4 linked regions of the Homo sapiens genome follow. The protein of the gene in region 1 purifies or fractionates together with the protein of each later gene. This does not show direct contact. Each region holds a gene or a part of one and is shown in the gene's direction. Other genes may lie near its edges.

Region 1 (7,809 bases):
CCTTTCCATCTGGAATTGCTTTGTCATGTTTACTGAAGATCAGTTGACTGTAGATGTGTAGGTGTATATCTGGGCTAACTTGTCTAATTTGGTGATCTGTCTGCTAATACCTATGCCGATACCACAGTCTTGATTACTGTAGTTTAATTAAAGTTTTGAAATCAGGTAATGTAAGTCTTCCTACTTTTTCAAAATCATTTTGGTTGTTTCATATAGATTTTAGGATCAGTTTGTCAATTTCTACAAATCTCTAGGATTTTTTTAGGAGTTGTATCTATAGATCAATTTGGACAGAATTGCCATCATAACAATATTGTCTTTCAATCCAGAACATAGTATGTCTCTCCACTGATTTTCATCTGTCTTGATTTCTTTCAGCCGTGTTTTTTATGTTTTAGTGTATAAAACTTGAACTTCTTTTGTTGAATTGAGTCTTAGATATTTTATTATTTTTGATGCTACTGTGAATAGAAGTTTTTTTTGATTTTTGGTAGCATATATAAATATAGTCTGTTTTCTGCATAGTGACCTTCTATCTGGCAACCTTCCAAAACTCACTTATTATCTCTGGTAGTTTTTGTTGTTGTTTTTGTTAATTTTTAAATTATTAAAAAAATTTTTTGGCCGGGTGCAGTGACTCATGCCTGTAATCCTAGCAGTTTGGGAGGCCAAGGCGGGTGGATCACCTGAGGTCGGGAGTTTGAGACCAGCCTGACCAATATGGAGAAACCCTGTCTCTACTAAAAATACAAAATTAGGCAGGCGTGCTGGCGCATGCCTGTAGTCCCAGCTACTCGGGAGGCTGAGGCAGGAGAATAGCTTGCACCCGGGAGGCAGAGGTTGCGGTGAGCCGAGGTTGCGCCATTGCACTCTAGCCTGGGCAACAAGAGTGAAACTCTGTCTCGAGGAAAAAGAAAAGAGAAAAAAAAATTGCCAGTACATAGTAGGTGTATATATTTATGGAATAAATGAGTTTCTTTTTGTTTTTGTTTTTTGAGACAGAGTCTTGCTCTGTTGCCGAGGCTGGTGTGCAGTGGCAGGATCTCGGCTTATTGCAACTTCCACCCAACCGGGATTCTTTTTTTTTTTTTTAAGAATCGGAGTCTCACTCTGTTGCCCAGCCTAGAGTGCAGTGGCCTGATCTTGGCTCACTACAACCTCTGCCTCCCGGGTTTAAGCAATTCTCCTGCTTCAGCCTCCCGTGTAGCAGGGACTACAGGCACATGCCGCCATGCCTGGCTAATTTCTATTGTATTTTAGTAGAGACGGGGTTTCATCGTGTTGCCCAGGCTGGTCTCGTGAGCTCAGGCAATTCACCAGCCTCAGCATCCCAAAGTGCTAGGATTGCAGGACTGAGTCACCGCACCCGGCCACCCCCCGGGTTTTAAGTGATTCTCCTGCCTCATCCTTCTGGGTAGCAGGGATTACAAGCATGGGCCACCATGCCCGGCTAATTATTGTATTTTTTAGTAGAGATGGGGTTTCACCATGTTGGTCAGGCTGGTCTCGAACTCCTGGCCTCAAGTGATCTGCTCACCTTGGCCTCCTAAACTGCTGGGATTACAGGGTTGAGCCACCGCGCCTGGCCCAGAGATGTTTGGATACAGGCATGCAATGTGAAATAAGCATATCAGGGAGATTGGAGTATCCATCCGCTCGAGAATTTATCCTTGATTTACAAGTAATCCAATTACATTCTCTTTTTTTTTTTTTTTTTTGAGATGGAATTTCGCTCTTGTTGCCCAGGCTGGAGTGCAATGGCGTGATCTCGGCTCACCACAACCTCCGCCTTTCGGTTTCAAGCGATTCTCCTGCCTCAGCCTCCTGAGTAGCTGGGATTACAGGCATGCAGCCACTATGCCCAGCTAATTTTGTATTTTTAGTAGAGACGGGGTTTTTCCATGTTGGTCAGGCTGGTCTTGAATTCCTGACCTCAGGTGATCAGTACGCCTCGGCCTCCCAAAGTGCTGGGATTACAGGCATGAGCCACTGCGCCCGGCCGACTAGTTTTAAAAAAATTTTGTTAGCAGTGTGAACTCATAGATGTTAACATATGCAGTGTATTTCAGTCTATTGAAATTTTTCATTTTTATGCTCAAATCATCCCATCTTTGGCAAGTAGGAGCCAGTTTGGTTCCTCAGTCATTCTAAATGACCGTAGTACCCTGGTATTCTTTTATTTATTTATTTACTTATATATTTAAGTTTTGCATTTTGATATAAGATGTCCCAGACTCACAGAAAGGCCTTTTGAGATAGCAAGACAAATTTGGCGGATTTAATTTCAGCCAAAGGAAGAGAATAATGTCAGCTTTTCTTTCCTCACCCCCAGAAATTTGATAGAAACCAGGACAATTGTGAAGGCAGTTTTCTCACTGAAAAGAAGTGCACGTTGGTGGTGAGACAGTTAAATAAGGATTCTAACCTGTGGACTACATTTGTTGTCATTAGAGGGGGTATATACAGTATTTATTCAAAGACGCTCAAGCCTGTAATCCCAGCCCTTTGGGAGGCCGAGGCGGGAGGACTGCTTGAGCCCAGGAGTTTGAAATCAAACTGGGTCAAACAGTGAGACCTCATCTCTAGAAAAAAATTTAAAAACGGGGTGGGAAGATCGCTTGAGCCCAAGGGGTTGTGGCTGCAATGAGCCATAACTGAGCAATTGCACCTGGGTGACAGCGAGACTGTGCCTAAAAAAAAAAAAAAATTGAAAGACAATTCTAACATCCAATTCTAACATCTAATTCTAACATCTGTAAGCGTATCTGTCCCAAACACAGAGCTAAAGTAAAAACACAGGAAGGGGCCGGGCGCAGTGGCTCATGCCTGTAATCCCAACACTTTGGGAGGCCAAGGCGGGTGGATCACCTGAGGTCAGGAGTTTGAGACCAGTCTGACCAACATGGTGAAACCCCATCTCTACTAAAAATATAAAATTAGTCGGGCGTGGTGGCGCATGCCTGTAATCCCAGCTACTTGGGAGGCTGAGATAGGAGAATTGCTTGAACCCGGGGAGGTGGAGATTGCAGTGAGCCAAGATCGCGCCATTGCACTCCAGCCTGGGCAACAAGAGCGAAACTCTTGTCTCAAAAAATAAAAAAATCAAACAAACACACATACAGGAAAGGAAAGGAGATAATAAAAAGGAAGGAGTAGTAACCACAGGGCATCCATGTTGGAGTATCCAGATCAGCTTCCTTTTCATTAGTCATAAATCCTTTTGGTGCTCTGTCCTGTTGGCTTTTCATGCACCTTCAAATCATGTATGGGGGTATGAGAAAGATAGTTTAAAAAGGAAAGGTTTGTTGTTCCACTGTTAGGGGTGAGGGAGGTACTTAGCGAAATGATGACTAGTAATAAGCTCTAGAACTGTGGGCTCTTTTATCCATGTCCATTGTTTCATATTCTTCTGGACCCACAAGATGGCACTTGAGGATCTACAACAGCAAAACCATACCAACGTATTTAGAATAAAAGAATCATCCACAGGGACAGATTAATGATGCATCTTTCTGGCCTAACAGTGTCTTTTTGATGGGCATAGAGATAAGGGGACTATGGCCACACCATCAGAATTGTATTATTCAATTAATAATGCCTACCACTTTGAAATGCTTCCTGTGCCCCAGGACACTGTGCTCATCACTTTACATCTCATTTCATCTATAAGACTCTATATAACGTCATTTCCACTTTACAGCTGAAGAAACTTAACTTTAAGTTACATAACCTGCTGACTGTGAACTATCACATGTGCTGAAGTTGGGATTCACCAAGCGGCCAAAAAGCACAGGTTCCCCTTACCATTGCTATGTTAACCAATAGACTGATGTATTTTAAATCAGTTTCTATTTTTTCAACCTCATAAGTTTGAAAAGCTGCACTCTGCACTGATTTAGCACTGACTGGTGGCTGCTTAAAGCTTGCCTTATTCCATTTTAGCAGGCCCCCCGGCAAAATACCCCAATTAGTGGTGTCATCCTCTCTATTCCAAGAATTTTCTCTTAAGACTCCCGCTCTGTGCGTTTGCTTGGGAATGCAGAGCCCTGTTCCTCATCTCCCCATCTATGCTTTCTTCATTCTAAGCCCTTTCCTATCTACTTTATGCTCGAGGTGGCTCCACCTCCACCATGAGCCAGAGCCAATGATGCTCACGGCCCCAACCATGATTAAAAAGAGATTGCCCTGCAAGGTAAATCAGTTAAAACCAACCTCTCCTGCCCTGAGTGGATAGGTAGGGTTAGGGTTGCCAGATGTCACGAAGTTACAGGATGCTCAGTTTTAAGGTATATCCCTTATACTATAAGGGTTATAGTAAAAAATATTCATTATGTGAAATTCAAATATAACTGGGTATCAGGTATTCTATGTGGCAACCCTAGGTAGGGGAGCACAGGTTAGGCAAGCGATTAGAAGATTTGCAGCCTCCAAAGTTTCTGCACCTCGATGGGACACTAGAACAGGAAGGCTCCTGGGCCTTTCTGGCTCTGGGAATGAAGCGTGGAAAACCCTCCTTAGGCGGGCGCAGTGCTTCAAGTAGCCAAGCTCTGACTTCCGAGGGAAGAAAGGAGGCCATGGGCCTCTGCCAGAGCCATGCTCTGCACTCTGGGGTCAGCAGAGTTCAAAACGACCTGCAACGTCTGGCGCTTAGCTCCTAAAGAGGTCTCCAGTCCAGCGCCGACGGCCAGCGGCTAGAGGCCGTCCGCCCGACTCCAAGATGGCGCCCGCCACAGCTGCCAGGTGTTAAGATGGCGGCGCGGGGCCGCGCCCGCGCTCCCAGGCTCTCCTCCCCCAGCCTTCCTCCGGCTGGCAGCACGACTCGCGTAGCCGTGCGCCGATTGCCTCTCGGCCTGGGCAATGGTCCCGGCTGCCGGTCGACGACCGCCCCGCGTCATGCGGCTCCTCGGCTGGTGGCAAGTATTGCTGTGGGTGCTGGGACTTCCCGTCCGCGGCGTGGAGGGTGAGTGTGGGCCGGGGGCGGTGCATGAGATGATGGGGCGAGCTGAGGTCCACCCGGGCGACGCTCTGGACCTGCGCGAAGGCCGGCGGTGCGCGACTCGCCCCTTCTTGGCGTCTCCCCGGGCGCGTCTCCCCGACTTCTCTCCCCGCGCACCGCCCGCTGGTGGCCCGCGAAAGGGGGCCGGTGGGCTGAGGGCCGGTGGACGGGAGCCCGGGGGTGGTTGGGCCGCGTTCAGGCCGCCCTCAGCCCGTGGCTGGTAGCCAGGAGGGACAGTGCGGTAAGCGCTGCTGAGGCATACCCTCTGGTGATAAGCAATTTATTATTAATAACATTATATCAAATACCGACATTGTTGTGGCCGTATTAGGAGCCAGGAACTGTGCATCGTGCTTTATTTACATCATTATCCCATTTAATGCTCCCACAAACCCTGTCAGATCGGTTCCGTTTAGTGTCTCCATTTCACAGATGAAGATGCTCAGGCCCCGCCTAAGTTTGCGCTTCTGATACGTGGCAGAAGCCTGTCTCTCTGACGCCAAAGCCCAGTCTGGAGTCCACGCTGCTGGACCACTGTCTTAAGGAGGCCAGTCTTGCTCAGCTCCCTGCATGAAAAACAGACGAGAAACACGGGAGACTCCCGGTAACCCCCAACTTGCCGGTAGGGAAGGCAGCCACTCTAGAGGCATGGCGAGGGTGGAGAGTGGAGGCCTTACTTTCATGCTCCTTCACCCCACTCCTCATAGTCCTGTTAAAGTCCAGACCCTCGGTCTCGCTTGTCATTTAGACCTTAACAGGAATAGGCAGGTCTTTCTTTTCCCTGGGGTGTCCTGGATGGAGGCAGGACAGCAGAGAGTTGTGGAGAAGGGTGAGTCATAGTAACACAATTACCATGAATGAAAGCGCTCACTGTGTACCAGATGCTGTGCTCAGTGCTTTACGAGCATCATCTTTTGGAATCTTTACTGTTTTGTTTTTGTTTTTTTAAGGGATGAGGGCTTGCTCTGTTGCCCAGGCGGGAGTGCAGTGGCCCATCATGGCTCCCTGCAGCCTTGAACTCCTGGGCTTAAGTGATCCTCCCACCTGTTTCCCAAAGTGCTGGGATTACAGATGTGAGCCACTGCTCCCGGTTTATGTAATTTTTATTTTTATTTTTTTTTGAGATGGAGTCTCGCTCTGTTGCCCAGGCTGGAGTGCAGTGGCGCGATCTTGGCTCACTGCAACCTCTGACTCCCGGGTTCAAGCGATTCTCGTGCCTCAGCCTCCTGAGTAGCTGGGATTACAGGTGCCTGCCACCACACTGGGCTAATTTTTGTATTTTTAGTAGAGATGATGGTCCACCATGTTGGCCACGCTGGTCTGGAACTCCTGACCTCAGGTGATCCACCCACCTCGGCCTCCCAGAGTGCTGGGATTACAGGCTTGAGCCACCGTGCCTGGCCTTAGTAATTTTTAAATGCATATGCAGTAGATGTTATCATGCTCATTTTATAGAAGTAACTTAAGACTCAGAGCCAATAAGTCCTTTGACAAGGTCATACAGCCAGAAGTTGAGGAGCCTTGATTCAAGCCCATGTCTGCCTGACTTCAGAGCCCAACCTCTGCATTTTCACTATACTTAACTGCTAGCCTCACAGAGGGGATGGCATGGGTTGGATATCTTCTGTTTCAGCCCCTCCACCGTGCTCTGTGCCCTGTGTGGCTGTCCTGTGTGGAATAAATACCAGCTGTCCTACCGTCTTGCTTCCATTGTGTTGGAATGAGGGGAGAGTGAGGTCAGGGTATTGATTCTCTCCGCTCCCTCCCTGAGAAGTTATTGAAGGCTGGCTTTGCCCCCGGTGGAAAGCATTGAATTCTAGAAAGCTGCCCTCTGTGTTACCCTTGATGTTTCAAGGTTCTGTGACTACTTCTCTCTCCAGACTCTTAAGGTCTATGAGTGGTAACTGGCTCCTCCTCTACTGTTACTGGCCTTGGAATTCCTTACCATTGCTTTTCATTTCTCTGCACCCAGCCTACACATTAGTGGTCCCTTCATTAAACTCTCCTCAACTTGCCCAAGTTAAATGTGCTGTTTCCTGGCAGAACCCTGGCTGATTCAGGGTTCAGCTTGGGTCTTTGGTCATCATGGCCAGGCCATGAATGGGGTGAAGACAGAAGAAACTTCACCAGCTGATTTCTTCTCAGAGTAGCTGAAAATCTGAGGTGTTTTTTTTTTTTTTTTTTCTGCAGAGGATGCCACTGGCAGATTATGCTGGCCTCAGGTGCTGAGGCCCTGAGAGACTAAGCAACCTGGAGGTAGCAATGCTATCCAGGTGTCTAGGAATGGAAGCAAACTCCTGGCTTCAATACCCCTATGCCACTCTTCCCTAGGCAGTCAGCTAGCAAATTCTTACTGAGCACTCATCATATGCTAAACACTGTGCTGAGCACTGGGGATCCAGTGGTGAGTTAGAGCAGCAGGCCTTTGGGGAAGGCAGCCACTAAATAACTACAAATTACTAAGAAAATTGCAAGACTGAGAAATGCATCAAGGAGAGTCCCAGGGCGTTTTTGGGAACTGTAATGGGAGACCTCCCACCCTGGTCTGAGGGTCAGGGAATGTGTCCTTACAGAGGTGACATTTAGGGTGAGATCTGAATGAGGAGGATGAAGGATTTGGCAGGAGGAAGCTTCCCAGCAGAGAAACAGCCCTCAGGAAGGCTCTAAGGCAGGTGGGGATAGGAGGAGTGTAAATGATCAGGGACTAGAGGGATCTGATGGCCACAGGTGAGAGTGCAGACAGAGGCCACATTGGGGCCTGGTAGCTCTGCTACAGAATGCAGATGCATTCACAGGGTAGGGGAAGCCACTGA
Region 2 (6,835 bases), on another chromosome or scaffold:
ATTGCTTTGTAGTTAAAAAGTGAAAACTACAGCCTAAATGAAAGGAAGGGAGAATAAAAGGAAAATCGTTATTTTTTTCAGCTTTCATTATACAAAAGATGTTGCCCCAATTTACCAATGAAAAGACACTGAGGGCCACAGTGGCCCTCTGAGACCCTCTTTCCAGGGTCACATAGCTGAAATATGTGGCCAAAACAGTATCTTTCCCAAGGCTTGTAACTGTAGGCCCTTGTACTACACTGTGCTATACCTGGTAGAAAAGAATATAGATATACAAACTAAAAAACATCACTTATTTTAAAACTTGTTATTTCATGAAATGGCAGACCATAATGATTTGGTGTGGACATTAAACAAAAAGAGTTTATATGCCTCATTAAGATAATTTTCTGGAGCTCTGAATCCATGGTTTATACATAATGGGTTCAGTATATTTTGTTTAGCCACAAAATCACTATTGTTAAATCTTTAATTACTGAAATATGAAGTTACGCAATTTATTTTTGAAGTCTGCGTATGCTACTCACCAAATTTTTGTTGTTTAAAAAATATTGTTTTGCAATTTTCAAAATACATTAGCCTCATAGTGCATATAGCAATCTTAAGACTTTATCAACCTCTGATTTCTAAACACACATCCAATATTCATCACTTTCCTCTGCTGAAATTATTTCCCACTGGTGGAGTACTTTTTTTCTTTCTAGTGCGATGACATGCTACGGCACACCATCTTATTGTTTGTGAAATCAATACTTAAGTTGATTCAGGAAAAGTGTATGAAACGAATTTCAAACATCTTTTAGGGGCAATTCACTACAATTGCCCCTAAAACCAGTTATAAGATAAAACCAGGATTTGGATAACAATGATGGACAATATTGTCATTGTCATCCAAATCTTGGTTTTATCTTATAACTTAATTCAGAATGTTATTTGATGCCTATTTAATGGCTAGGGTTGCTATGTTTCTTAAATACTCATATTGTTTTTCTAACGGTAATACCATAAATCTAAGCCTGTATTTTTCTTTTTACAACTGATATAAAGTGCATTATGATATTTTAACTATTTATCTTCCTCTGAGAACTGCTGGTTCTTCTATGCTGCATAAATATCTCTTAAGGTAATTTGTAACCTAGTATTTTGAAGATTCCAAATACACATTTGAAAATACTATTTTCCTGGATTCTAACTAAGTTGCAATACGTTGAATTAACTCAAAGAAAACAACTCTCCATATGCAATAAGCTATTTGATTATATGATTATCAACACCTATACAAGGGAAGAATAGCGTTAACTGAAAAAATTATTTTTACTAATGGTTGTTTTTTAAATGCTTTTTTGTATGTTGACTTCAATATGGGTTTGTTTGAAATTGTGTAGTTTCACATGTCAGATATAATAAAGCAGCTTCAGTGAAAAGATTCAACCGACGAGAAGCTACAAGTTCCTCAACTTGCCCACATTCGCATTCCCACATTTCCAATTTGTTCCCCCGCTTCTTTAGGCAGTACCTAGCCTCGGCACGGCTGCTTCCTCTTCTTTTTTTTTTTTTTTTTGGCACGGCTGCTTCCTCTTCTTCTTTTCTTTTTTTTTTTTTTTTTTTTTTTTTTTTTTTTTTTTTTTTTTTTGGGACGGAGTCTCACTCTGTCGCCCGGGCTGGAGTCCAGCGACGCGATCTCGGTTCGGTTCACTGCAACCTCCGCCTCCCGGATTCAAGCCATTCTCCTGCCTCAGCCTCCCGAGTAGCTGGGAATACAGGCGCCCGCCATTACGCCCGGCTAATATTTGTATCTTTAGTAGACACGGGGTTTCACTATGTTGGCCAGGCTGGTCTGGAACTCCTGACCTCGTGATTCGCCCCCTTCGGCCTCCCAAACTGCTGGGATTACAGGCGTGAGCCACCGTGCCGGGCCCTCTCTCTTCTATTTAAAAGGATAGGCACAGCCTTTGGAACTGAATGTCTTTCCTCAGGCCTCATAATAGAAAATGAGGAAAGTCCATTCTGACAACTGGCTGCCTTAGGCAACAGAATTTGGGATTCCTACCCTTCCAGCTCCTGTTGAGTCAAAGGCAAAGGCAATAACCCAATAAATGTGGTGAGACAGTAAATGGAAACTGACATAAAAATAGCAATAAAAGCCTACTTCCTTCTTGACAATCAATACATAATGGAATGGGTATGATTTTACACCATAAAACATCAGAGAATAATAGAATATGGGCTGAAGAAAGCTCAGAAGCCACAACATTTTCCCCACCTTTTGATTTTCAAAACGATTCTTAAGATTTGTCGGGAGTATTTGTTTTCAATTGTTTCAGTGAGGCTCAGTTTTGACCACATGCAACCAAAATAGAGAATTTCATGGAGGATGGTCACAGGATTGGCTTAGAAAAATGTAATCCTGTGAGCTGTCCCCTTTCATAAATAATAAGGTTCCGACGGCTGCACCGAATGTTCCTCCTTTCAACGAGGTTGGGCCGAGGTTGGGCTCCCAGCTGCTGGGACATTTTTAGTCCATCTTGGACTCTCACCTCTGCCTCCTGCTCAGCTGTCAGAATGCCAGGCGGCTCTGCAGCCCAAAGCCCACTCCGTTTTAAACTTGCTCGTTTGCAATCACGTAACCCGCTACTGACGACAGAACCCTCAAGGCCCATTTATATGCGGTTCTCAAGTTTAGGTCTAGGGAAGTTTCCAGGAAGCTTAGTGTTCGGGGAGGAATTCGTTTTGCTTTTGCTAATCAAAGAGACACAAAAGCACAGCTGAGTCCCGAAGCTGGCACACGGGAAATCGAGGTACCACTGTCCCCTCACCGGAGCGCGCAACAATCACTTGGGGAGCGGGGAAAAGGTTTCCACCTTCCCCGAGCCTGGGGCACCTTCGCTCCCACCGCCCCAGCTGGTGGTGGTCTCGACACCACGCTCGTTGCGGGGTCACACGCCAGAGCTGGAAAGGGGAGGTCCAGCCCCAAGTAAAGCGACAAAGTAAGGACACAGTGGTGGCCAAGGGCTGTCTCCTAACCCCAGTCCCGAAAGACAGTGTGGAAAGTCCGCCGGCGCGCCAGCCCTTGAAACTCTGCCGGTCCGGCCGCGGCCCCTCCCCTGCGCGTCCCCACCTGTTGTGAAGCTGCCCAAGCTCCTTCTTGCCCAAATGCTTTGGAAACTGCCAAAGGACACTCAGAGGCCAGGGAATGTAACAGGCAAGCATAAATATGCAGAAGAGATGGAACCAAAATAGCGGGCAGGCAGGGCCGGCGCTCGTGGGGGTCGGTGATCTGGAGCCGGGCCCCCGCCGCCGCGGCCGCGCCAGCAGTGCCAAGACCTGGCGGGCGGCGCCGGCGCACTCCGGGCACCGAGTCTGCAAAAGAGGCCCTGAGCGGACCGCCGGACACCTCGCAGACTGCGGGCAGCGGTGGTGGCGGCCGCCTCTCCGGGGCTCCACGGCCGACCCGCCGCCCGCCGCCGCCATCCCCGGCCCGCTCCTGCCGGGTCCCCGACTCGAGCCCCGGAGGCGCCCGCTCTGCGGGACCGCGCAGCCCGGCTGCATGGAGCCCGGCGCGGTGCCCCGGCCGGCCGAGCCAGCCACGGCGCGAGAAACCGTCGCCCGCCACGGCGAGGGCAGGAAGAAGATGGCGGCTACCGTGGCGGCGGCGGCGGCGGCAGCGGCCTCACACGCGTCGCTGACGCCAATGGCTCGCGCCGGTCGGCGGGCCGCGGATGGCGGCGGCGGCGGCGGCGGCTCGGGCTCCGGCGAGGGGCGGGGCGAGGCGGGGAGGGGGCCGGCCGGAGGCAGAGGCTGGAGGGAGGCGGCGGGGACAGTTTGTTGTGCTCGGAACATGGCGGGCGTCGGCGACGCGGCCGCTCCGGGAGAAGGCGGCGGTGGCGGCGTGGACGGCCCGCAGCGGGACGGCCGCGGCGAGGCGGAGCAGCCGGGCGGCAGCGGCGGACAGGGGCCCCCGCCGGCGCCTCAGCTCACAGAGACGCTGGGCTTCTACGAGAGCGACCGGCGGCGGGAGAGGCGCCGGGGCCGCACAGGTGAGGCGGGCGGCGCTAGGCCGTGGCGGGCTCCGAGGGGCGGACTGGGGACCGAGGGCGGCGGGGGCGCCTTGGAACCCCGGCCCCCGAGCCGCGCGGCTGCCGTTGCCTCCCGGGGCTCCCCAGGCTGTGGGCGCGCGGAGCCGCCGAGGCTGCCGAGGCTCCGCGGCCGTTGACAGTTCCTCGGGCGGGTTGCGCGCGCAGCCCCGAGGCCCCCGCGGCCGCGCCAGGCCAGGTGTGCCCTAGAAGGGGTCTGCGGCCGGGAAAGTTCTGTCCGGGTCCTTGCATCGCCCTCGGAAGGTCTTAGGTTAGCGGGCATCTCCCACGTCTCGGAGCCCAAACGTGAGAAGCACACGGCTGATTTCTTAATTATATTCATGCCAAGGTGACTTTTTTTGTTCTGTATTTTAAGCAAACTTGAGCCATAGAAACCTGTTAACTTGCCCTGCAAGTAGATTTTTCACAGACAGCTGACGGTGTGGTAGTGACCATGAAGTTCAGTAGTTTTGCCCAGTACAGAAATATTTAACACTCCATAAAATGTTGCATCTGAACTTTTCCTGAACTGAAACTTATGCCAAAAAAATTACTAGATGAGAAAATGTGTACTTATGAATCCTACATTCAATGACCAGTTTTAAACGTATTGTTACAATGTTACAGTTTCTATAAGCTGTAGGTTTTTATTCTCATTTTAAAAGAATTTTTAAAACTTGCATTTGTATTCATATTGCAGTTACAGATTAGTTTTAAATGAAAAAAGGTTTTGAGATGGATGTCTTCTTGAATATAGAGTGAACCCAACGTTTTAATTCTCAAGCTGTAAACAGCAACTGAACCATAACTCCATTAAATTTCTTCCAACTAAAAAATTACTTCTGTTGTCCAAAAGGGGCTGTGTTAGCCGTTATTTCCTGAAGTTCATGCAAATAACTAAGTTGTGAGGCTGATTACATCATTGATTGTACTTGAGTACTGAAATTTTAAAACTACTTAAGGGGCATAAAGTTGATCAGATGCGATTCTAATTGATTTGCTGATTCCCAGAACTGGACGTAGGTTCTATTTGAAGCAGTCTATATTTTTGGAAAATTACAGACGGTCTTGTTTGGTCTTTTTCAATTAACCACTTAAAAATTCTCAACCATACTTTATTTGGTTTAGTTCTCAGTTAAACATTTGCTTTCAAGAGTATTTACTTTCTTCATTGGCAGGATCTCAGTAAGACAAAATAGCAAATCTCTCAACTGTCTGTTTACTTACTTAGACTTGAATATTAAAAGCACTCTGTTGTAAATAGAGATAGATGTAGCCAGGCTTCACTATACTTTCTTTAAAACATTTCTCAGTTGCAGGAAAGCCACCATTTTAAAAGCCTTTTTTTGTTGTTTGCGTGGAGAGGAAATGAAGTTGTTTGAAGCCTATTGATGAGCACAGATCTTGAGCTTGCAGTATCACTTAACACTTCTTCCCTGGCTTTTTCTGGGACTGGATACCTGGACTTCCATGGACTTCATTATACCACGTATCCATTCTTCACCAACATGGTTCACCATGTTTAAGGCTGGATTTTTTTTAACCCATAGTTGCAGGAAGTCATTATCAGGGAGATGCCTCCAGGTTTAGCTGTTGGGGTAGTCCTTGTTCTTTCCCCAGTTCCATTGATTTTGTGTGAGGAGATGTCAGTGGCCACTCCTGCTTTACCAAGTCACACTAGCCTTGGCGATCAGGATTTAGGTGAGAATTCCAAATTCCAGGAGTATTTCAGCTGGAGCCACTGGCCAGTGTTCTCTCTGAGCCTCCACATAAGCCCCTCCTTCTTTTCCCCTGGTGTCCCTGCTCTGCTAGTCACATAGCTCCTGCCACTGCTAGCACCCAGTCTGTAGCTCCGATAACCATATTTGTTAGAGGTTTCCCCACTAGAAACAATTATTTTAGTCCTTCTTCAATGCCCAGGCTGCTAAGTCTAGCGCTGCCCTCTTCCCCTGCTCTGTAATCCTTCCTTCCCCTCCTTTTAAGAATTTTTAAAAACGATTCCCTAGGAGCTGGCCTGGGTCAGAGGGCCTTTGAGTGGCAGCACCTGGAGTCATTTGGATAGCATTTCTCCCTGAATCAAACTAGTCCTCCACGGCTAGATGCTCGGACTTAAGGTATTACTTGTTGATTTTTTTATATTCTTGTGTGCCTCTGAGAGTCTAGCACCACTGCCCTTGAGATCTAGATCCCCCTGCAAGTTAAGGCAACCTTTGGCTTTTCTTTTTGAAAGTCATAATCTTAGTGTCTTGGTGGCTGAACCATCAGTCAGTTCCAAAGTTCCCTTTATCATTTCTCACAAGGAATTTAGGGCTCCTACAGGTAAGACATTTGTTGATCAGTCCCAACAGCCTAGAATTCCCTAAATGAATGTACATATTAGGTACTTATCCAAACTCTTTCCATCTGAATAAAATAAAACGTGGTGTCTGAGGTTCATTTTTTGTTTTATATCTCTCCTTGTTGATTTATATGTTTAGAAACTAGATATGTATATTTGTCTGTATGAATAGCTGTATATGCTCTATATTGTATTATACTAAACATGTGTCTCCATTAAGTCTAAGCTTTCTTTTCCTCATCACTTCGTTCTCAGAACTCCCGTTCTGACTTATATTTAGCCTGGCAATAGGCTGACGCATGTCTCAGATGCGAGTACTTACACCTTTTAACATAGTTAGAATTGGGAATCCCACTCATCATTCCTGTTTTTATTTGCTCTCTCAGAATGGTCATTGTGTATTTCCTTGTTGCATATGTGGTTA
Region 3 (7,024 bases), on another chromosome or scaffold:
CAGTCTGCTGGGGTACAGTAGATGGGAATGCAAAACAAGTTTTCTTTTTTTTATTTTTTAGAATTGGGCAGCACATCATTCCTTAAGATGGAATAAGTGTTCCTACAAGTTTGTGTTTTAATATGCATATAACTCAAAAGCGAGACGTTTATGAAATACTATTTTGGAACTGGGTAGACTTGTCCAGAATTAATTGACCATGTTTAAATTCTGAGATACTTTCTCTCTTTTTTTTTTTTTCTTTTGAGACGGAGTTTTGTTTTTGTTATCTAGGCTGGAGTGCAATGGCACGATCTCGGCTCACTGCAACCTCCACCTCCCAGGTTCAAGCGATTCTCCTGCCTCAGCCTCCCAAGTAGCTGGGATTACAGGCGCCTGCCACCATACCTGGCTAATTTTTTTTTTTGTATTTTTAGTAGAGATGGGGTTTTACCATGTTGGCCAGGCTGGTCTCGAACTCTTGACCTCAGGTGATCCACCTGCCTCGGCCTCCCAAAGTGCTGGGATTATAGGCGTGAGCCACCACGCCCGGCTGAGATACTTTCTCTAAATAAAAATGCTCTTGCTGTACTTGAAAATATTATTAAGCTGAGGATTTCATGGGTCTGAGAGGACTGTGCGTCTGACTTTGTATAAGTTGTCCTACCATCAGTGGAGTTTGTAAGCATTGTTTTTTTTTTAAGACAGAGTGTCACTGTCGCCCAGATTCGAGTGCAGTGGCACAATCGTGGCTCATTCCAACCTCCACCTCCTGGGTTCAAGTGATTCTTGTGCCTCAGCCTCCCAAGTAGCTGGGATTATAGGCGTGCGTCACCATGCCCAGCTAATTTTTGTATTTTTTTAGTAGAGATGGGGTTTTGCCATGTTGCCCAGGCTGGTCTTGAACTCCTGGCCTCAAGTGATCCGCTCACCTCGGCCTCCCAAACTGCTGAACACTGCGCCTGGCCTGTAAACATATTTTTTTTTTTTTTGAGACGGAGTCTCGCTCTGTCGCCCAGGCCGGACTACGGACTGCAGTGGCGCAATCTTGGCTCACTGCAAGCTCCGCTTCCCGGGTTCACGCCATTCTCCTGCCTCAGCGTCCCGAGTAGCTGGGACTACAGGCGCCCGCCACTGCGCCCGGCTAATTTTTTGTATTTTTAGTAGAGACGGGGTTTCACCTTGTTAGCCAGGATGGTCTCGATCTCCTGACCTCATGATCCACCCGCCTCGGCCTCCCAAAGTGCTGGGATTACAGGCGTGAGCCACTGCGCCCGGCTTGTAAACATATTTTTAAACTGGATTCATGTAATGCCAAAATGGTATAATTGTCAAGCTACCAGGGAACAGTTTTGATGGGTACTGGGTAAGTCAACACATGGAACTTAATTTTCTCATTTCAAAAATTGTAAATTAGACCTTTTATTTAGAGATTATAAAGCAATAATGTTTGGTAGGTATTTGCTTGTTGAATAAGGAATTGTATGGTTGGTTACTCTTTACGGTCAAAGACTCTAACTCATGCCATTGCTGATGGTATATAATAAGCCAGGAATAAATACATAATTAAGTCTATTTATATGTAATAAAATCTTGTTTCTTTCCTCAGTATTTACATGAAAAACACATCCTTCATCGAGATCTGAAAACTCAAAATGTCTTCCTAACAAGAACAAACATCATCAAAGTAGGGGACCTAGGAATTGCCCGAGTGTTAGAGAACCACTGTGACATGGCTAGCACCCTCATTGGCACACCCTACTACATGAGCCCTGAATTGTTCTCAAACAAACCCTACAACTATAAGGTAGGATTGGGCTCTGTATGCTGGCTTACCTTGTCTCTGGGAGAGTGCTTGTAATTTCAGAAGTTAATTAAGTCAGAGAATTATCTATGAATTGGTTTAAGGAAAATGTTTTCTTTTTTTAAAGGGAAAAAAATGTAAATAAGCTATTCTGACATTTAACCGTTTACTGTTTTTATTTTCTAGTCTGATGTTTGGGCTCTAGGATGCTGTGTCTATGAAATGGCCACCTTGAAGCATGCTTTCAATGCAAAAGATATGAATTCTTTAGTTTATCGGATTATTGAAGGAAAGGTAAAGAATAATCTAGAACTAATTGACCAGTATTTCTATAGTGCAGCTTTATAAATAGCTACTAGCAAAATCATTGATGATTTTGATGAGTCAATGAGTAATTATTGAGATTGGGTTGATAGTTAACAATGGTGGGTCCCTTCTGTGGGGAAGGTCAGACTAGAGGAAAAGGGATTGATGGATCATTTCTTAATATTAATCTGTAAGCCAGCTTAATGGCTCAAAAGAATTGGCTTTTTGAAAACCTATGCCTATAGTCATAGGATGTGCCGATGCCCTGAGAGGCTATTTGTCTCTTCTTCTAAGCAGCCTATGATTCAATGAGCTACATTTAAAATGAGTTTACTCTGTTTGAACTTGTCGTTCCTTTGATAATCATCACAACAATCAGTAACTAGTTAAGAATCACAGAAAGCATTGTGTCTGATATAGACTCCAGAGTGACTGGCTTTGTATGTTCCATGAGGCTAGTTGCCCTTTATAGATTCAGGCATCCATGTATCATTAAGGTTTTTTTTTTTGTTTTTTTTTTTTTGAGATGGAGTTTTGCTCTTGTCTCCCAGGCTGGAGTGCAATGGCATGATCTCAGCTCACAGCAACCTCTACCTCCTAGGTTCAAGTGATTCTTGTGCCTTAGCTTACCAAGTAGCTGGGATTACAGGCACATGCTGCCAGGCCCAGCTAATTTTTGTATTTTTAGTACAGACGGGGTTTCACCATGTTGGCCAGGATGGTCTCGAACTCCTTACCTCAGGTGATCCGCCCGCCTCAGCCTCCCAAAATGCTGGGATTACAGGTGTGAGCCACTGCACCTGGCCAATGTACTGTTAAGTTTTAAAGGCCATAAATCATCTATTGATTTTAATACTATCCCACAACTTATTTAATTTTTCAATTTGAAGCATATTGAAAAACACACACAAAAGTAAAATTTTCCCATAATGCCACTACTTAAGAATCAAACAAGAAGGGAGTGAAATTCTCTTCTCTTTCTATTCCCATTCCCTGGAAGATGACCATTGCTAGCAAATTGGTACATGGCCTTTCTGGTTTTTTCCTGTCTTTATACAGACATAACTCTGTGTGTGTGTGTGTGTGTGTGTGTGTGCATGTGTGTGTGTGTGCATGCGCACGCGCACACCCACAGATTCTTAAACTGAAATCAGGCTGTTCACATGGTACATAACTTGTTTTTTTGACTTAATATATGAGGAACACATCCTTCCAAGTCGGTACCTGCAAGTTTTTTTTTTTTTGAGACAGAGTCTCACTCTGTTGCCCAGACTGGAGTGCAGTGGTGCAATCTCAGCTCACTGCAACCTCTGCCTCTCGGGTTCACGCCATTCTCCTGCCTCGGCCTCCCAAGTAGCTGGGACTACAGGTGCCCGCCACCACGCCCGTCCACTTTTTTGTATTTTTAGTAGAGATGGGGTTTCACTGTGTTAGCCAGGATGGTCTCCATCTCCTGACCTCATGATCCACCCGCCTCGGCCTCCCAAGGTGCTGAGATTACAGGTGTGAGCCACTGCACCCGGCCCAAGTCTTGTATTTTTTAACCTGCTGCCTAGTTTCGTTTCTTTTCTTTCTTTTTTTTTTTTTTTGAGACAGAGTCTCGCTCTGTTGCCAGGCTGGAGTGCTGTGGCGTGATCTCGGCTCACCGCAACCTCCACCTCTCTGGTTCAAGCAATTCCCCTGCCTCAGCCTCCTGAGTAACTGGGATTACAGGTGCATGCCACCACGCCCAGCTAATTTTTTTGTATTTTTAGTAGAGACGGGGTTTCACCATGTTGGCCAGACTGGTCTCAAACTCCTGACCTCAGGCAATCCACCTGCCTCGGCCTCCCAAAGTGCTGGGATTACAGGCGTAAGCCACTGCGACTGGCCCTAGTTTTTATAAGAAGAATGCATGATAATTTATTCCACAAATCCCCTAAGGGACATTTATGTTTCCAATTGTTTACTACTGCAAGAACAGTACTGCATTGAACATCCCGATACATAAGTCTTTAGGAAACTCATACTCTTATTTCTGAATGAGAGTGTCATCAGATGGGACTGCTGGGTTGGAGGATATACTTTTATAATTTTACAACTTGTTATCTTACAACTGGGATACCAGTACACTTCCTGTAGACTAATATACTGATTGTTTTCTGCTTATGTGGACATATGACTATAAATAAATATTGGGAAACCTCTACCAGCTTTTACTTTGTTTCACAAGACCATTAGTCATAATTACAATATTATTTTTATTTGTAGCTGCCACCAATGCCAAGAGATTACAGCCCAGAGCTGGCAGAACTGATAAGAACAATGCTGAGCAAAAGGCCTGAAGAAAGGCCGTCTGTGAGGAGCATCCTGAGGCAGCCTTATATAAAGCGGCAAATCTCCTTCTTTTTGGAGGCCACAAAGATGTAAGATACTTCCCTTGCAAATAGCTGGGCTAAATAGATGGGGTGAAAGAGGGTGGCTTCTGTAATATTCATATGCAAGAATTAATGGTGAGTTTTCTTAAAAACAAGAAATAAAATGGCATGATTACATATGTAGAGGAGGCAAAATTCTACCCTCTTAGGGTTTCTTGGCTGAGCTTGAGAATTAAACTTATAATTTAACAGGAGAAAAGCATGTAGATTTCTTTAATACCTGAATAAGTTTTATGTGACACAGGAGCCCTCATAAGGAAATGAAGACCTAACTTCTACTAAAAATACAAAGAAGTGGCAAAACCTAAATGCTTTTTGCTTGATTGAACAAAGAGAGGCAATTGTGGAAAAGTAAACTAGGTGGAGAGGCTAAAGGAAGATAAGAATTATTTTAATAAGGTCTGTTTATAGAATTCTCTCAGTTTCAGCTTTCCATTCTTGATAATAAGAATGTTACTTTCCTTCTGGTACAGGGAGGACGTATTTCATATGGGAGTTTTATCTTCTGCTTTCTGGAAGAAAAAGGGAAGATCAGAGTGCCCTTCTTGCACTTACTTTTTTTTGTTTGTTTTTTTTTGAGATGGAGTCTTGCTGTGTCACCCAGGCTGGAGTGCAGTGGCATGATCTCAGCTCACTGCAACCTCCGCCTCCCGGGTTCAAGCAATTCTCCTGCCTCAGCCTCCCCAGTAGCTGGGATTACAGGCACCCGCCACCGTGCCCGGCTAATTTTTGTAGTTTTAGTAGAGACAGGGTTTCCCCATGTTGGCCAGGCTGGTCTTGAACTCCCGACCTCGTGGTCCGCCCACCTCGGCCTCCCAAAGCTTGCACTTACTTTTTAAAGAACCTTAGCCCAAAATAATCTTTATGCCAAAGTAGCATATTTTGGCGTGGCATATTCTCCCAGTCTTCAAATACATGTTGAAATTTGCTTAATTGCTAAAATCAGAAATTTGGAGAACCACTGTCACATTCCTCAGAGGGTTCTAAGACATATAGTGTAAATTTTTTTTTAAAGGACATATGCACTACTCTGGGCTCACTGCCTATGAGTTAGTCCTGTTCTCAAGGAGCAGCCAAATAATAATAAAAAAAAAGAGGGCATATGTTTTAGAAATCATATAATTAGAGATTATCTGAGAAACCTATACATCTTACTGTGTAAGATAGTAATATTTAAAAAGTAGTGCTCACATTTCTGAGAGCTTGCATAAAGTTCCCTCTTCATTCACATTAACTTCCCAAGAGAATTCCTTGCTTTGGCTTGCAGATCCTACCTTTACTAAACAGGTGTTCCAGGATCTAAGACTTAGGGCTGGACAAAACTATTACAATCTGTTTGGCTTCTCCTCTTGCCTTGTGGCATGTTAAATTTGGAAAGAGAGGAGGCAGTGCTAGAGATGCCTCAGGGAATAAAGAAGAACCATCTTTTTGTGTACATAATTTCCCACCAAGCAGACCTTTGGCCTTCCAGTGTACTGATCTCCATGCTCCTCTTGAATTCTCCAGAGGTTTAGCCCAGTTTTAGAAATGACATACTAAAATAGTTGGGGATGTTATTCCTGTATGCATTTATTCTATAAGCAGGACTAAGTGTACCAATCAGTTTTACTCTCAAAGTTAGCCAAGCAGTTGTGGTATTATTACAGACATGTAAAATTTGAAAATGAAAATTAACCTGATACTCCCGTATGTGAGGCAATCTCCCATAGAATTTTTATTTTGGAATAATTTTGTATAAACAGAAAAGTTGGAAAGATAGAGTGGAGAGTTCCTGTATACCCCTCATCTAGTTTCTTCTGTGATTACCAGATTACATACCCTAATGCATTTGTCAAAACTAAGAAACCAACATCGAAATATTACTATTGACTTGGCCATGCATGGTGGCTCACGCCTGTAATCCCAGCACTTTGGGAGGCCGAGGCTGGCAGATCACCTGAGGTCAGGAGTTTAAGACCAGCCTGGCCAACATGGCAAAACCCCGTCTCTACTAAAAAAAAAATACAAAAAAATTAGCCGGGCGTGGTGGCGTGCACCTGTAGTCCCAGCTACTCGGGAGGCTGAGGCACAAGAATCACTTGAACCTGGGCAGCGGAGGTTGCAGTGAGCTGAGATCACGCCACTACACTCTAGCCTGGATGACAGAGTGAAACTCTGTCTCAATTTTTTAAAAAAAGAAAGAAAAATATTACTATTGACTAAATTCCAGACTTTCTTTGGCTTTCACCAGTTTTTTTCTCTAATGTCTCTTTTCTGTTCCAGGATCCAATCCAGGATATAGTACATCTAATCAGGGGTCTGTGATTGTTTCTCACTTTGTTTATTTTTTATGACCTTGATTGTTTCAAAGACTACTGGTGAGGTGTTTTGTAGGATGCCCCTTAGATTTTTAGAAAACTATTCTCTATAAATGGTGCAGTTCTGTAAGGGAATTCATTGTATACACACACTCCCACATATACCTAAAAACCCTTAATCTTCAGTATATTGATAATAACTCTTTCTTTTCTTCTTTATA
Region 4 (7,274 bases), on another chromosome or scaffold:
CAATGAGACACTGCTACATTCTCACTAAAATGACAGATTAAAAAGCCCAAAAATACCAAATGTTTAGGAGATGTACAGAAACTGGAACTCTTGTACATTGGTGGTGGAAATTTTAAATGGTCCATTTTGGAAAACAGTTTGGCAGTTTCTCATAAAGACGTAAATGGGAGCTTTCTTTACAATAACACAAAACTGGAAAAAACACAAATGTCTTAAAAGACACAAATTTTTTATCCCCCCCTTTTGGGGATAAAACCAAAAAGGAATGATCTAGAAATACACACAAAGACATAGATGACTTTTAAAAACATGCTGAAGGCAGATACACAAAAAAATACGTTCTATGATTCTATTTATATCGAATTTTAGAACAGGCAAAACTTATCTAAAGACGTAGTTCTCAACTGGGGCAATTATGCCCTCCCCTTCCCTGGGCAATGCTGGAGACATTTTTGGTGGTCATAACTGGGGTGGCATAGGTATGGGGGTGGTTGCTAAAGGCATCTGGTGGGTAGAGGTCAGGGATGCTGTTAAACATTTTATAATACACAGGCCAGCAGCCACGGCAAAGCATTACCAGGCCCAAAATGTTGAAAGTACCCAGGCCCAGGTTGAGAAATTCTGTTCTAAGTGATCAGTGGTGGTCTAGATGGAAGTAAGGATATTGAATGAAGGAATTCTGGGGATAATAAAAATGTTCTGTATTTTATTTTATTTACTTTTATTTATTTATTTATTTTTGAGATGGAGTCTTGCTCTGTCGCCCAGGCTGGACTGCAGTGGTGGGATCTCGGCTCACTGTAACCTCTGCCTCCTGGGTTCAAGCAATTCTCCTGCCTCAGTCTCCCGTGTAGCTGGGATTACAGGTGCCCACCACCACGCCTAGCTAATTTTTGTATTTTTAGTAGAGAAGGGGTTTCACCATGTTGGCCAGGCTGGTCTCGAAATCCTGACCTCGTGATCTGGCTGCCTCATCCTCCCAAAGTGTTGGGATTACGGGCGTGAGCCACTGCACCCTGCCGATGTTCTGTATTTTAATTGTGGTAGTGACTGATTTGTCAAAACTCACCAAACTGCACACACTTAAAACGTGTAAATTTTACTGTATGCAAATTTTACATCCAAGTTGATGCTAAAAAGTATAGTGCCTGTATAAGACTATGTTAAACAGTTTAATCCATTTTTTGTTTTTTAAAACACATGCACAGAAAAGACAGGTAAGGCAACTACCATTAAAGACAGGAAAAGCAAATACCATTGGTGGGATTATGGATAATTTTGAATTTTTTGTCCTGTTGTTCATTTGCTTAGTATTAAGTAAAAATTTAATAAACTTGATGTGTACACACACACATAGAGACAAACACAAACACTTATATATCCAGTACCTAAAACAGGTACAAATAAATGAGGATAATAGAAAAGCACAGGTGCACATGAATATTTAATTGTGATATTTGATCATAAGACTCTAGTTATTTCAAGAAAGTATAAAAATGTATAATGCAAAGGCACTTAGAAGTAAGGTTTTACTCTAAAACACTGCTAAACTATTTAATGAGCTCAATTATAATTCTTTCAATACAAAAAGTTTGCAAGGAGGAATTTTCACTAGAAACAATGCTATGATAGCCCTAATAAGACAGGGTGAAAAGGTCAAGAAATTCTTTAAAATTAAATGAATAAAGTTACCAACTAAGGAATAATCCATTTCACTGTATTAATACGGTTGAAAACACAGCAGATACAATTCAGTTATGTTCATCAACAGCCAGGGACTGAGCAAAGTGTGAGAAATTTATTATAAAAATGTCTCTGAAGAACTGACCAATGGAGAAAAATGGTATTGTCAACAATCACATACAAACGGGCTAAAGGCTATGATGGAGGTTTGAAAGTGTTAACAATGAAAGAAACCAAGCAACTACCTAAGCCTGGAGGAAGCATGTACAAAGGTGACATCTTAGCTAGACCTTGTCTGGTGAAAAATCATGAGATAATTTAGAAATCTTAGAAATAACACAAAAACCAAAAAAAAAAAACAACAAAAAAAAAAAACAAAAAAAGACCCACCACCACACATAACAATTTTGTTACACTACTGTCTCATTTTATAGTCTTAAAGGTCAGCAATGAGAAAATCTTTTCCCGAAAAAGAAGATTATCCTACATATTGGGTAAGGAAATTATAACTACTGAGAAAATCCCATATCCAAGGGGGAAATATATTTAAGATTCACCTTGATAGAAAATGCACTCCCTAAGCTTCCACCACGTCTACGTTTGGCAATTTAAGTCTCTGGCACTATTCAAAAGCATAGTGATTAAAAAAAAATCAATTAGGCTGCAGTTTAAAAATTCTATATGAATACTTGTTAATATAGAATTAATATATGGCCTCATACTAAAACATCTCCATACATTAGTAAGGGAATATTTAAGATACCTCCCAAAAGGGAGACACTGGGAATCCTACATACAGTACACTACATCTTTGACAGTAAGTTTTCAAGCCATAAGAGATGCTTACGAATATATGGGGTAAACGATTACTCTATGCTGCTAAAAATCATTCCAAGGTAAAAAGGTCAATTCCTATCTAATGCAAAGAGAAAAGCCTGCAAGGTGGTGGGATGGTGAGACAGACTGCTGGTAGAACCTGTCTGCCTTGCTCCTTGGATTTCCTGTAATTTTGGACATTACTTAAATTAAGGCATTGAAACTGAATTACATCAACTTTATCTCAACAGAACAAATTTTGTGCAGCAGAAAACCCAATTTTGGCGGTGAAAAAGTCGTCCCAAAGACAAAGGGTCTTAAGTACATCTGACTTTTCGGAGACAGCAGCAGTGTGTCCTATTCTTTCTCTCCTGGCTCAGACTCAAAGAACTACTGCAGGCAATTCAGGTAACACTATTTCCTGGTAGTGTGATTCAGGTAACTGGAGAAAAAGGAAAATGCTTAAAGCAATAAACTAGTATAAAAGGGAACCTTCTGGAGTCCCGTAATAGCCAGTGAACTAGAAACTCTTGATATTTTATAGATACTGACACCAGTAGGGGAGCCAGGAGCCAAGTGCAACACCAGCCAAGGGTTGGAAGCAGGCAGAGAGAACAGTCATTGCCTGATCCTCTTGCTTCCACCGCAAAAGAGCGCCCCCACCCCAATACTCTCGTTCCTTAAAATGTCCCTATCGGGACCCACGCAGAAATACCCCCTCTCCCCTACAGTAACTCCGTACAATCCCAAATACCCTGCCGGAGTGTGACAGGCTGCGTCCACTTACTGAGCTGTCCCCCGCCCGACGCTGTACTCGGTTCCCGACCTCCAGCGCCCCCAACGCCGGCTGCTCCAGGGACCCCTGGCGCCCCCATCCCCGGCGGGGTTCCACTTTGCCTCTCGAAGTTGCCTGGATTGGAGAAGTAGTCGCGCAGCCGAGGCAGCTCCCGGCCACTCTCTAACAGCTCGGTATGCAGCTCCAGGGCGGTCAGCAAGTATTGATCGCGCAACAGCTGAGCAGCGATCGCATCAATTGATAATCGGGCCGGGGTCTCCCCGGTGCCCCCCAGGGCCACTGCAGCCGCCGACGCCTCCCCAGGGAGCCCTGGCCGCGCACTGCTTCCTAAGGCCACGGGATCCTGTGGCGACAGCGAGCCCGCAGAGCCAGGATCTAGGCCACTTCCGGCGCCCAGCCGAAGTACTGCCCGCCGTTCCTCTGTTGCAGCTACCTCGTCATCGTCCTCATCCGAATCACTGAGAAATGGATTCACGCCGCCACCACTGCCACTACCTCCAGGCGCCATCGCCGCCATCTTATCCTGTCAGGAGTGTGGGCGCCTCCCTGACTGGTTCCGACGGGCCGCAGCCCGAATCCTCTAGGCCTCAGGGGACACAGCGCACCTCCACAGCCCCGGCCTGACCACGTCCTGCCTCCCGACTTAGAGACAAGGAGTACGCTCCAAGGCAGGAGATCCGGATGCAGCTGCACCTGATGCCTCAGCCTCTGCTGCACCAGCAGCCCGGCTCTGCAGGCGTCTTCCTGGTCTCCAGTCTCGCGAGAACTGGAGCGTGCCCCTGCCCCTCTCCCCGATCTAGCCCCGCCCCAGCCCCGCCCCAGCCCACTTCAGCTCCGCCCATTCCCAGCGCCAGATAGCAAAGATTGAAGGCCCCGCTCTCCGCTCAAAAGCAAAACTCCACCCACGACTCCTCCATGATTGGTCAGAGAAGGAAGGCGTGGAGCGGACTGACGGGAGACTGGCCCGAGAATTATCGCGATAGCAGCAGCGGCCGGGCAGGTATTGGGGGCGTTCCGGAATTGAGGGGTGGTTGTAGTGGTGGCTTAGGAATACCCTCCCGGCTATCGCTTCAGTGGGTAGAGGGGACCACTGCCCGAGAGCTTTAATGGAGCTGGGTCCTGCCTTCGCGCTGAGGAGCCCTCGTTTTCGAGATCAGGCCTGACCGGGATAAGCTCCAGGTAAAGTTCAGGGACCAGTGCGCGGAGGGTGTCGGCGCCCAAACTGTGGTGTCGCGCCCGCGGACGCGCTGTTTCCCTACTGCGCTGCACTTTTTCTCGCTATTTGCTGCCAGTGGTGACATTTTGTCCCCATGGATAGCAAGTGCCCAGGCCTGTAGTCGGAATGTGACTTCCTTTCTTTTCCCTTCTCTGCCACATGCTTGCACACTCGGGAGGCCTAGCGACAGCACGACTTCTCAGCCCCGGAGGTGGTCCTGCCTGTGGGTGGGGACGGGGGCTGGAGAGACTAAACGGAAAAGGGAACGCTGAGGTTGGCATTTGCCTGGATCTGGGAACATCGTCGAGTTGGAAAACAAATTGTTAGGTACTCAATAAACGCTTAGGATTTAATACACGATTTACACAACAGGGACCCTTCAGAATATCTAATGCTGTCTCACCAGTAGACAGATAAGTAAACTTAAGCCAAGAGTGGTTGTTATAAAATCAGCTCCACGCCGGGCGCGGTGGCTCACGCCTGTAATCCCAGCACTTTGGGAGGCCGAGCCGGGCGGATCACGAGGTCGGGAGTTCGAGACCAGCCTGACCAACATGGTGAAACCCCTTCTCTACTAAAAACACAAAAATTAGTTGGGCGTGGTGGCGCAAGCCTGCAATCCCAGCTACTCAGGAGGCTGAGGCAGGAGAATCGCTTGAACCCCGGAGGCGAAGATTGCAGTGAGCCGAGGTCGCGCCACTGCACTCCAGCCTGGGCGACAGAACGAGACTCCGTCTCAAAAAAAAAAAAAAAAAAAAAAAAAAATCAATTCCGCTAATAAGGAGTCAAAGGAATTAACATCATTTCTCTTATGTCCCAAACGATTCTTTATCCACTGTCTCCTGCAACATTTCTGACTCGTTCATGCAGGCTAGAATCAAGGTTTTGGAACTTAGAACTATTTTAAAAGTTGAATGCTTCAGAGAGTTTTGATTTTTTTGATGAAATGTTAGCATATAAAGTACATATCCTAAGTTTAGAAGATCAACGTTTATCTTTTATGTCATTCCTTGATTATGATCTGAAAAGGTAAAGGAATTTCCAGTCAATACAATTAGACTGCTATTTCTTATGGCTCCTATTTTTTTCACACACAAATGACCACTTTTCCAGGCTTTAGATTTCCTTTCTTAGTGTACAGGTAAGTGACATATTACATTCAGTGTGTAGTAAACATTCCACAGTAAAGTATCTCCCGTTAGCTCCATGGAAAAATTAAAATAGACGATTCTTACATAACCTTAGGTCAGGTTATTGGTTTACATGTAAAAGTATGCCAACAGTTAAGAGTAGGCTTTAATTTCAATATACCCAGGCTCAATAAACTAAAATTTTCATTTGAATGGGGATTTGGGTTTTTAAAATTTTATTTTTGCTAGAAGTTTAAAAAAAAAGTACCAAGAATTTAAACTATTTTTTTATAGGACATTAGTTCCCAATGTTTTAATGATAAATAGTTTTCTGTGCCATATATTAAAAGTAAAACATGGGGAAAAAAATCCCCCCAAATAGAATTGAAATGGCAAATACTGTATCCTGTTAGAGATTTCTTAGCAAAAGGGATTGCTGATCCGTATTTTAGTTGGATTTTCCAGAGAGATTAAAATGGAACCAATTTCTGGAATCCAGGAATGGAGGATTAGTGAATGGCATGGGAAGGGCATGATTAGAAATGGATTGTTTATATACAATATTTCCATCTCCATGATTGGGAAATTGAGAAATCTCCTGCATTTAGGATTCCTGAAGAGGATTATGCTTATAAGATAGAAAAGCTTAAGTTCAGATCCCAATTCTACTCATTATTTATTGTGAGACCTTGAAAAAGTTACCTAACTTCTCAGCCTCACTTGCATTCGTCTATCAAAGGGGATAAGGAAAGTACACAGAATTGAGAATGTTCTTGTCCCAGTGCCTGGTACCTGCTACACAATAACTATTACTGTGGTCACTTATTAATTATTGAAATATTAGTATGTGTTGAGAACATTTGACAAGTGTTTAAAAATAAAACTAATATCAATCGTTTTGGCAGTGCAAGCCTGAAAAAGCAATTAAGTCAGTAGGGCTGAAGGGAGTATCTTTAATTTGGGGTCTCAGTTCTAAAACACAAGTTGAAAATAGATTTAAAATGTTTCCTCAGAGTTGTAAGAACTTGCATGTAGAGGAATTCTTCCCATACAAATCTGTGGTTTTCTGCTTCTATTTCTGCCTCCTATCCTATAACCATGAACTTGTGTGTTTGATCTTGTAAGCCCATTAGAAATCAACTGCCCAGTCTTCCCAGTATGTACTTTTCTTTTCCACAATACACAGAGGTTTGGTTATTCGTGAATAATGTATAAGTAACACACACTGGAATATTAAAAATTACCGATCACTACTTATAATAATGTATTATTAATAGTGTTGGGAAATTTCCTTTCTACTTAGTAAGATTTTCATTAATCTAGGCCCTTACAACTAATGTTTCATCTGACTAATGATAGTTATTAAAGCTTGTGCCTTAGCAATGAAGATGTAAAAGATGCCTTTTTTCAAAGCACGTCAATCATTTTAGTATTTAAAAAATTATTTTAGGTTTTAATAGTCTTAAAAGAACCACAAGTAATATTCTGAATGCAAGTTTTGGTTGACTTGAGGTTTTAGTAATACCTCATGTTTTATTGTTTTTCAGTGTGTGGTAAACATCCACAGATAAACTAGATAACTTGTATTGGTACATGCATATATCTTTTTAAAATTTTAATAGTTATGTGTTTG

The links.
Region 2: the proteins of TXNDC15 (region 1) and TAPT1 purify together in Homo sapiens (affinity purification with mass spectrometry; 3 studies listed by BioGRID and IntAct, with this or other methods). This does not show direct contact.
Region 3: the proteins of TXNDC15 (region 1) and NEK4 purify together in Homo sapiens (affinity purification with mass spectrometry; 3 studies listed by BioGRID and IntAct, with this or other methods). This does not show direct contact.
Region 4: the proteins of TXNDC15 (region 1) and PIGN purify together in Homo sapiens (affinity purification with mass spectrometry; 3 studies listed by BioGRID and IntAct, with this or other methods). This does not show direct contact.

What each region holds. Positions count from the first base shown.
Region 1 is NC_000005.10:134,869,571-134,877,379, forward strand, and holds the start of TXNDC15 (thioredoxin domain-containing protein 15 isoform 1 precursor), read left to right. Parts: upstream 1-4,800; 5' UTR 4,801-4,857; coding exon 4,858-4,960; intron 4,961-5,260; exon of another isoform or gene 5,261-5,562; intron 5,563-5,673; exon of another isoform or gene 5,674-5,828; intron 5,829-7,809. UniProt on the Homo sapiens protein: Acts as a positive regulator of ciliary hedgehog signaling. Involved in ciliogenesis.
Region 2 is NC_000004.12:16,223,461-16,230,295, reverse strand, and holds the start of TAPT1 (transmembrane anterior posterior transformation protein 1 homolog), read left to right. Parts: upstream 1-3,824; 5' UTR 3,825-3,838; coding exon 3,839-4,037; intron 4,038-6,835. UniProt on the Homo sapiens protein: Plays a role in primary cilia formation. May act as a downstream effector of HOXC8 possibly by transducing or transmitting extracellular information required for axial skeletal patterning during development. May be involved in cartilage and bone development.
Region 3 is NC_000003.12:52,760,940-52,767,963, reverse strand, and holds part of NEK4 (serine/threonine-protein kinase Nek4), read left to right. Parts: intron 1-1,588; coding exon 1,589-1,786; intron 1,787-1,969; coding exon 1,970-2,077; intron 2,078-4,339; coding exon 4,340-4,494; intron 4,495-7,024. UniProt on the Homo sapiens protein: Protein kinase that seems to act exclusively upon threonine residues. Required for normal entry into proliferative arrest after a limited number of cell divisions, also called replicative senescence.
Region 4 is NC_000018.10:62,184,044-62,191,317, reverse strand, and holds the start of PIGN (GPI ethanolamine phosphate transferase 1), read left to right. Parts: upstream 1-4,261; 5' UTR 4,262-4,474; intron 4,475-7,274. Other genes in the region: RAB11-binding protein RELCH, read right to left, coding at 3,287-3,812.